Regions from separate parts of the Homo sapiens genome. Here region 2 is linked to region 1. Evidence: fine-mapped expression QTL. A gene starts in region 1. The other region holds a variant in brackets. All regions are shown on one strand. Distances are between the middles of the regions.

Region 1 (4,387 bases):
GACCGACGGGCTGCCGTACTCGCTGCCAGGGGCGCTCAGCGACGCCTTCAGCACGAACTTGCCCATCAGCCCGCCACCTGGCGGCTGCGGCTGCTGCGGCGGAATGTACACCGGGTCCAATTCTGGCCGCAGGAGCTCGGCCACGAAGCCGCCCGAGGGGCTCACGTCGTTGATGTCCGCCAGGTTGAAGGGAGCCGTCGGAGGGGGAGCGGACTCCCTGCCATAGAGGAGGCCTCCGCCCGTGCCGCCCGGCGCCACGCCCGGGTCGTTCCCGGCCCGGATCGGATAGGTGAAGCTGCAGGTGGAGGGCGCGCTGGCAGGGCCGCTGCTCGACGGCGACGACGAAGAGGAGGCTGACGCTGACGAGGACACGGTGGCGGCCACTGACTCCGGAGGATGGGTCAGCGAATTGGAGAGAATAAAGTCCAGGTCCAGGAGATCGTTGAACTCCTCGGTCTCTCTCCGAGGTAGGGGCGCCAGGTTGCTACCGCCGCAAGCCGCACCGGCTCCGCCGCTCTCCAGGTCTGTGGCCACGGTCGCCGCCGCCAGGTCATAGGGGCGGCCGGGAAGCACTGGGGGAAGTCGCTTCATGTGGGAGAGCTCCTCCCGCCAGCGCTGCGGGGACAGGGCGGGAGAGACCTGTCAGTGGTGGTCCCCTGTTGCCACCCGACATACTGACGTGCTGGCGGGCCACGCGCGACTGCACCGCCCAGACATGGGGACTGGTCAGGCAGGAAGCACCCGGGAACCCAGGGCGCCAGCGCTGCAATCTCGGCCCACTCCCGGGTCGAAGAAGAGGTGATGCGTCTGTATTGCGGGTGTTATGTCCTGTCTGCCCAATTGCGTGTGAGCGAGCGCCGCGGCTGGTCCCTCCCCCTCCAGGTCCCGTGGACGTCCCCGGAATTGGCACACCGAGGCTCTCTCGGTGCGCTCTCGCCACGGGGCCGCCTACGCGCTAAACTCACTCTGGCCCAGCCAGTGTCTGGGGACGCGGCCACCTCCCGCCCGGTGGCCCGAGAGCGCCCGCCCTACCGACAGCGCGCCCGGGGACTGGTGAAGACCCGGCTTGCGCCCCAGGCGGCTCCGCAGTGCTCGCACCACGGGCATACACAGCTGAGCCAAGGACACGGAAGCTATCCCGGGAAGGTTGCGGAGTCCGCGCGGTGGCCGCTCCTTACCCTCGTTCAGTGGCTCTTGGTGACCCCAAGGCTCCGCCCGCCCCCACCACACCCACGAAAACCCACCGGGCGTTCCCGGCGGCCCGGAGCGATACTCACGTTATTCGGGGCACCTGCTTGACGCAGTGTCTTCTCCCTTCCCGCCGGGCCAGACGCGAACGTGGAGAAAGATGGGAGCAGCGCGTCGCTGACAGCCATGTCAGACTCGCCAGGTGGCTGCCTGCGAGCAAGGCAGGGAGCGGAGACAGGAGAGTCAGGGGCGGCTTTCGGCCGTCGTTCCGGCGCGTCCCACCGGTCCTCACCCCTCCCTGCTCCCAGCGCCGCGCGCCTCACCTACCTCATTAATGTGGGGGCCCAGAAGGTCCTCGGCAGCCCGAAGCAGCTGGGGCACCTGAACCCCAAAGTCAACGAAGAGAAGAAACGAAGCCAAAACCCAAAACCCCAAATTGGCCGAGATCCTTCTTCTTTGGATTAAATATAACTTGGAAGCGTCTTTTTTAAAAAGTTCCTTTGTATACAAAAGTTCTTAGAAAAGTTGTAAACGCAAAAATAGACAATCAGCAAGGCGAGTAAGTAGGTCCGGTGGCCGGGCTGCGCTCTCTTCCACTCAGCAGCGTCCCCCACCACTGTCGCGGTCGCCTCGAGTGCTGCCGTGGGCGCAGGGGCTGTGGCCGGGGCGGTGGGCGGGCGGTGCCGCCAGGTGAGACTGGCTGCCGTGGCGCGGAGCTGCGAACTGGTCGGCGGCGCAAGGCGCGGACTCCGGTGAGTTGTGTGGAGCGCGCGCGGCCATGGGCGCGGGCCACGGGCGGGTGGGAGGGTGGGGGGCCAGAGGGGCGGGGGAGGGTCACTCGGCGGCTCCCGGTGCCGCCGCCGCCCGCCACCGCCTCTGCTCCCCGCGCGCCCGCAGACACGTTCGTTCTCTCTGGTCGGGAAACTGCCGGCCGCCGGCGCGCGTTCCTTACTTATAACTTCCTTCGCTACAGCCTTTTCCTCCGCCTTCTCCCATGCCCCGCCCCTCCCTTTCTTCTCTCCGCCCCCCCCGAGGCTCCCTTCCATCGTTGCTATGGCAGCTAAATCAACAAACTCGGCGCACGTGGGGGCGGGGGAGGGGAAGGAGGGGCGCGGGCGGGGCTGGGCCGGGCCGTGACGCCAGCCAGGCAGCTGGCGGGCTGGAGCCGAGCTGACGCCGGCGGCAGTGGTGTCGGCGGCGGCGGCGGCGTCCGCCCCAGCGCGGGGCGCGAGGAACCGGGCGCAGGTTCGGTCGCTGCGCGACCAGGGCCGTACTCACCGCCATTGTCGGCTCCCTGGGTTCGAAGCCCGCGAAGACTGGTGGGGTCAGCGGGCGGCACGGTCACGCGTCCGCACCCCTGCTAGCATACGCGCTTGCCGCGCTGTCTGCGCGCTGGAGAAGAGCGCGATTATCCGCGTGACTCATCCAGCCCTCCATCTCCCCCTCCCTCTCTGCGCTCGCAGGAGTCCGCTCTCGTCGCTCAGCGCCAGTGCCGGTGGCGGTGCCGGCGCTCGGCCTGACCTCGCACGGTTCCTCGCGGGCCCTTCTGCTGAGGGGTGGGGGGCGCTAGGGGTGTGGAGAGGAGGCAGTGCCCAGCACTGTGCAGCGTGAACTGGGAGCCTCAAGAGAAGGCCAGAGGAGTGTTCCGCCGGGAACAGGCGGAAAGAGGCACGAATGGGGAGTTATGGTTTTGATACTTTAAATAGCGAGAAAGGGAGTGAAAGGGCTCAAGATTTACTCAGAGGCATAAGGGAGAGAAGAGGGACTGTGAGGCGCGGAGACAGTTTTCAACCAGCCATCTCGAAGCCCTTTCCTTTTTTTTTCTTTCTTTTTTTTTTTTTTGTGAGACAGAGTCTCGCTGTGTCGCCCAAGCTGGAATGCAGTGGCACGATCTCAGCTCAGTGCAACCTCCGCCTCCTGCGTCCAAGCGATTCTCCTGCGTCAGCCTCCCGAGTAGCGGGGATTACAGGCGTGCGCCACGACGCCGGCTAATTTTTGTATTTTTCGTGGAGACGGGGTTTCACCATGTTGGCCAGGCAGGTCTCGAACACCTGACCTCAAGTGATCAGCCTGCCTCGGCCTCCCGAAGTGCTGGGATTACAGGCGTGAGCCACTGCCTGTAATATTTGATGACTAAATTGCACTGTAGAATAATAATAATAATAGAAGACACCCATTAAAGAAGAATTAAACACTCACTGATGACTTTTCAAGCCACGCACTCTCCTTTCCACTTTATGGATGAGAAATTGAGTCATAAAGAGGTGAAATGGCCAGTAAAGGTCAAAGGACAACTCGTTCCTTCGGCTCAGGCTCCGGGTAGGTCAGGCCCCCCTAAAGGGACTTCCCTGGGAAGTGACCATGTGCCAGGAAGTGGAGCGATGCGGTGGGATCCTAGCTCTCAAAAAGTGCACACCGAGCCCGCCGCAGGCGTCCTTGCCCACCGGGAAGGGAATAGGAAACGGCGATCTTTACTTCAATCTTATAACGCTGCCTCCCCCACCCCCACTCTCCCCTTGGTTTGTGATCAGTAATTTTCCAGCTGGGAAATGTTTTGCTCTCATCTTCTTAGCAAACAGTATTTTTTTTTAAAACGTGAATGTGGTGTTCGGTATCACTTTCTAAACGTAGGTTTGGCGAGGTGTTTACTTTGGATTCCGGCGTTCGGCGCGGGACTCCGCCCCCCTCTCCACGGAGCCCCCTCACCGGCGAACGCTGGCGCTTAGGCTGGTGTCAACCTAGGAAAGAGAAGAGAGGGGACACTGGGGAAAGTGGTGGAAGCTCGGGCACCGGGCAGAGAGTGCGCTCACCCCTTTTTGAGTTCTAGTTGCCAATGTCCTTTGTCGTTGTCACCTGTTTGAACCCTGCGATTCTGGTACCTATTAGGTTTCCTCAGAATATTTGTGATACCTGATTTTTCCACTCCTCGCCGACCACAGAAGCATTCTTGGAATGCATCTCGCCCCGAATGAATTGACTCGGCCCTCCCTGCCAACGCCAGGAATCCCTCTAAGATCCAGAGTCGGACGCCCTTGAGTGTGACTTCCATCCTCTAGCTTGGCTCTGGCCAAGGGCTGCCAGGGTTGCAGCTGGGGGATGAGAGTGTTTTGGCAGGGAAACCGAGGTCCTCCTTCCTATGACCTCGAGGAGTTCAACCCCACCCCCCTATATAGGATCAGGCCAGTTACTTTAACTCTGA
Region 2 (4,387 bases), 340 kb after region 1:
CATCCTTGCAGCTAATTAATGTTGTTTTAGTTTTCAAGGTTTCTTCTCACATGTTTATTCATTCAGCAAATGTTTATTGAGTGCCTGCTTTGTGTTCATGATTCTCTAGACCTCAAGAAAATAGCTAGGACAGGCTGGGCATGGTGGCTCACGCCTGTAATTCCAGCACATTTGGAGGCCAAGGTGGGCAGGTAACACTTGAGTCCAGGAGTTTGAGACCAGCCTGGGCAACACGGCAAAACCCATTTCTACAAAAAATTGCTGGGAGTGGTAGTATGCACCTGTAGTTTCAGTTACTTGGGAGGCTGAAGTGAAAGGATTGCTTGAGCCTGGGAGGTGGAGGTTGCAATGAGCTAAGATATCACTACTGTACTCCAGCCTGGATGACAGGGTGAGAACTTGTTTAAAAAAATAAATAAATAAAACATAACAAAAACAACTCTTATTTGTCTCCCAGCAGGGGAGAAAGATGGCAGCAACTTTTATTCTATTTTATTAAACAGCTATGTTGAGATAGACTTCACATACTATAAATTCTACCCTCTGAAAGTGTGTAATTCAGAGGTTTTTAGTATATCACAAAGTTGTGCAACCATTACCACTACCTGATTCCAGATCAATTTCAAATGGATATCTAATTTGTTAGGAGTGACAAGGTCACCGAAGACAAATAAGTGGGGTGAGGTGACAACATTGCTAGTTTACCTGCAGTGATCAAGAGAAGGCTTGCCAGATACGGTGATATTGGAGCAGAAACCTGCATGCAGTGAGGGAGTGAGACCTGGATATCTGGGGAAAGAATGGTCCTTGGAGAAAACAGTGCCAGATCCCGAGGCAGGAGCACATCCAGTGTTCAGGGAAGAGTAAAGAGATCAGTGAGAGGCTGGGTGTGTGGTTCACGCCTGTAATTCCAGTACTTTTGGAGGTTGAGGTGGGTGGATCTCTTGAGTCCAGGAGTTCGAGACCAGCCTGGGCAACATGGCAAAACCCTGTCTCTACCAAAAACATGAAAAATTATCCAGGCATGATGGTGCCTGCCTGTGGTCCCACCTACTCAAGAGGCTGAAGTAGAAGAATCACCTGAGCCCATGAGGCTGTGAGTTTGCAGTAAGCAGAGATGGTGCCACTGCCCTCCAGCCTGGAAGACAGAGTGAGGCCCTCTCTCAAAAATAAAAACAAACAAAAAGATCAGTGAGAAGAGTCAAGGGCCCAGGAAGGGAGATGGTCCTATCCGAGTGTTATAAGGGATCATGTGTTGGAGCACTTGGTACAATGCCTGGTACACGGTACATGAAAGGTGTGATTATTATTGCTGTTCTCATCTTAAGGGCACCAGGCACTTTGCTTCCTGAGCACCAAGGCTCTGTTTCACCTTTGCATGCCCCTGCAGACAAGACCAATGATGTGGACCAATGATGTCGCCTTAATGTGAAGAGTCATTAAACATCCATTGAGTGGAAGAAGTTTCTTTAGTCTTTAATAACCTTTGTTTGCTCTAGGAATGAGCAGAAATATACATGCTCAGATGGACTGATAAACCACAAAGTCCAATTTTAACTCTTCCTACCAACGGGGCATTGTTTTCTCGAAGGCTTTAAAAATTTCTATTTCCTTGAGAGGCGGGGTGGGATGAAGATTTTTTTTTTTTTCCTTGGCTTCTTGTTGAAGGCGGCTCTGTGATGGGGTTTCTTTATAGTTGGGCAAGGGGCTGTCTGGGTCAAAGTGACAGCCAACGTGTGCTGCTATTACAACACATTACACAAATAGCTCTACATAATTGCTACCATCCATCAATTTGGGGAGATCCGTGGTGAGAGACGCTGCCAGTTTCTTGGAATGAAAACTAAAGCTCCAAATAGCCCATACAGTCACACTCACTAATCAATGCCAGTTTTTCTAAGGGAGGGTAAAATTGGTCTAGTCACCAATTCAGCCTTGAAAAGGATTCCCTTGTGTGTCCTTCATGTGGATTTCAAGCCTGTTTCCTCAATGCTCTCTTTACATTTTTTTTCCTTGAATCTCTCCCAAACTCTTTTTATCATAGTATTTTTTGCTCTGCATTTTCCTATGTTGCAAGCTGAAGTCTTTGTTGAGCTGGCTAAGGATGGTTAGCTTTCTGATGGGTTTAGGTTAATCTAACCAC[C/T]GTGGGCAGCAGGACAGAACGTCTCAGCTCCATGTGCAGTTGGGAGTTCTCATTGACCAGCTTCTCTGTCTGCATGGGTTGAGTTAACCTGATTATTTCTCAATTTCTATTTCATTCTGGATTGGAAAAAGAGTAACCATGAGTTACAAAAACAAACAAGTGGAAAAAAAAAAAACATGTTAGAGGTACAGCATTCCAAATTGTGAAATCTCTCAATAGTCACATCTTGCTCTTCAACTCAGTCATTCTAAGACACTGGGCCGTAAGCACTGTGCAGCAGGCAGGGCTGTATAGGGCAGGGCTAATGGCAGTGTATCTGACACGAAGAGGCAGAAAAATCTTATTGAATTGATGCTGAAGTAATGAAGTCACATTCTTGTTGATCGAAAATACAATTAAACAGAAAATTCCCACAAATAAGGCCCTTTTGAGCAGTGCTATATATGGTCAACAGCTTGCCTTGTAATAACTCCGAGGGACTCTACAAACTCGTGGAATGTGAGAACCTTGTTTAGTTCCCCTGAGAATGGGCCATACGGTCTCTTTAGCAGTGGTAATGGTGGAGGGTGTATGTGTTCCACAGATCCATGTTACAGACACGGCCGACAACTTTCCACCCCCAGCACATAGTCTGGTTTTCCTTCTCCATGAGAAGTGGTCTCCCTTGATACGAAAAGCCCTCTTCCATCAGAATGCCCCTTGAGGCATGAGCCCCTATCAAAGGATGAGATGGGGGAGCCTATGAGGTTCCTTTGGCTTCATGTTCCATGCTCTATCTGGATCCTCTAGTAATGTTCATCTGAATGAATCCTCCATGTTCTCCAGAATGGTATAGCCTATTATTATACTAGCCAGAATTATTTTTTTTTGTGTGGATAATCAATAGGAAATAAAAGAATTCAAGGGTGATTTGGTGTTTGCAGAAATCCTTAGAAGTTCTTTAAGAGGAAAAAAAGTAAGTCTTGCTTAAAACCCTCAAGCCAAGGGACATGGTTCTTTTTCATGGATAAGTGCTACTGAGAAAAATGCAATAAAACATGTCATTCTTTCCGGTCAATAGACACTAGACATTTAAATTTTCTGTTATTGTTTTTTTGAAGTGAACATACACTCAAAGTTTTATTGTCTTCATCATAAAACAAAAGATGACACTTAGAACCGGATCGCTTGGCCCTTTGTCTTTGTACCTCCTCCCAGTTCAAAATCCTTGTATCTCTTAATGGCCAGCACTTTTGTAGATCTGCAGTTGGGCTCAATGCACTCAAGCCTCAGCACAATCTTCTTTGTAGTTTTAGCCTTTTTCCTGAAAATGGGCTCAGTCTGCCCGCAATAGCCACTTGGCTTCCTATTATAGCACTTCTTTCCCTGGGCATACAGAGAATCTTTGCCCATCTCATTCTGTGTCACTTTGTGGGACTGGTGCTTGACACACTTGTTACAGAAAGTCCGGTGGGTTTTAGGAACATTCACCATACTTGCGGGAGTGCTGTGGGCACAGAAGTGCATTTAAATTTTCTTGGGCAAAACAGGATTAAAAAAAGGTAGTTTTAACTTTTCTGGGTGCTGGCGTAGTTAAAGAGATGGTCAGGTAATTAACTCTCCCCTCCTGGCAGGCAGCATATAATAATAGCAGTATAATAATGAGAAAGAGAGTATGTTATATTTGAGTAGCACTCTATACTCTGAAACTGCATTCACCTGCATTTTCACTTGATCCTCCTAATAAGCCTGTGAGGACACTTAGGCAGGCATTACACAGATAAGGAAACCGAGGATCATAGAGAAAGTGGAAAGCGACTTTTTCAAGATCTCATAGTTAAATGGTGACTTTTGAACTTGGGTTTCCCTACTCTCCAGCTGTCACCTTCTCTGCTAGAAGAGGGGTGGTGAGGAGGGGAAGAATATTTCCTCCCAATTTTTTTGTTTCAGTGGTTGATTGACCCTCAAGAGAGACTCCCTTTATTTCGGCTCTCAGGAGTCTGAGGTACTGTTTGCCCAAAACAGGCTTAAAAACCAAACAAACATAAAAACAGAGGCTGGGCACGGTGGCTCATGCCTATAATCCCAGTGCTTTGGGAGTCTGAGGCAGGCAGATCACTTGAGGACAGGAGTTCGAGACCAGCCTGGCCATCATGGCGAAACCTCATCTCTACTAAAAATACAAAAATTAGCCGGGCGTGGTGGCCCGTGCCTGTAATCCCAGCTACTTGGGAAGCTGAGGCAGGAGAATCGCTTGAACCCAGG

The links. PIP is the estimated chance that this variant, and not a neighbour inherited with it, causes the effect. A credible set is the group of variants that fine-mapping cannot tell apart.
Region 2: its variant is the best candidate, but not a certain one, in a credible set for the expression of KLF4 in whole blood (TOPMed, PIP 0.60).

The regions. Positions count from the first base shown.
Region 1 is chr9:107,487,653-107,492,039 of GRCh38, forward strand. It overlaps KLF4 (KLF transcription factor 4), which reads right to left and starts at 2,117. Exons shown (of 5, transcript NM_004235.6): 1 at 1,516-2,117; 2 at 1,278-1,398; 3 at 1-615. The coding sequence starts at 1,520. RefSeq lists silencers at 929-978, 1,630-1,829, 2,189-2,398.
Region 2 is chr9:107,831,214-107,835,600 of GRCh38, forward strand. It overlaps the pseudogene RPL36AP6. Among named protein-coding and RNA genes, the nearest start is that of KLF4, 340 kb to the left of the region's middle. The variant C/T (reference allele first, on the strand shown) is at 2,144.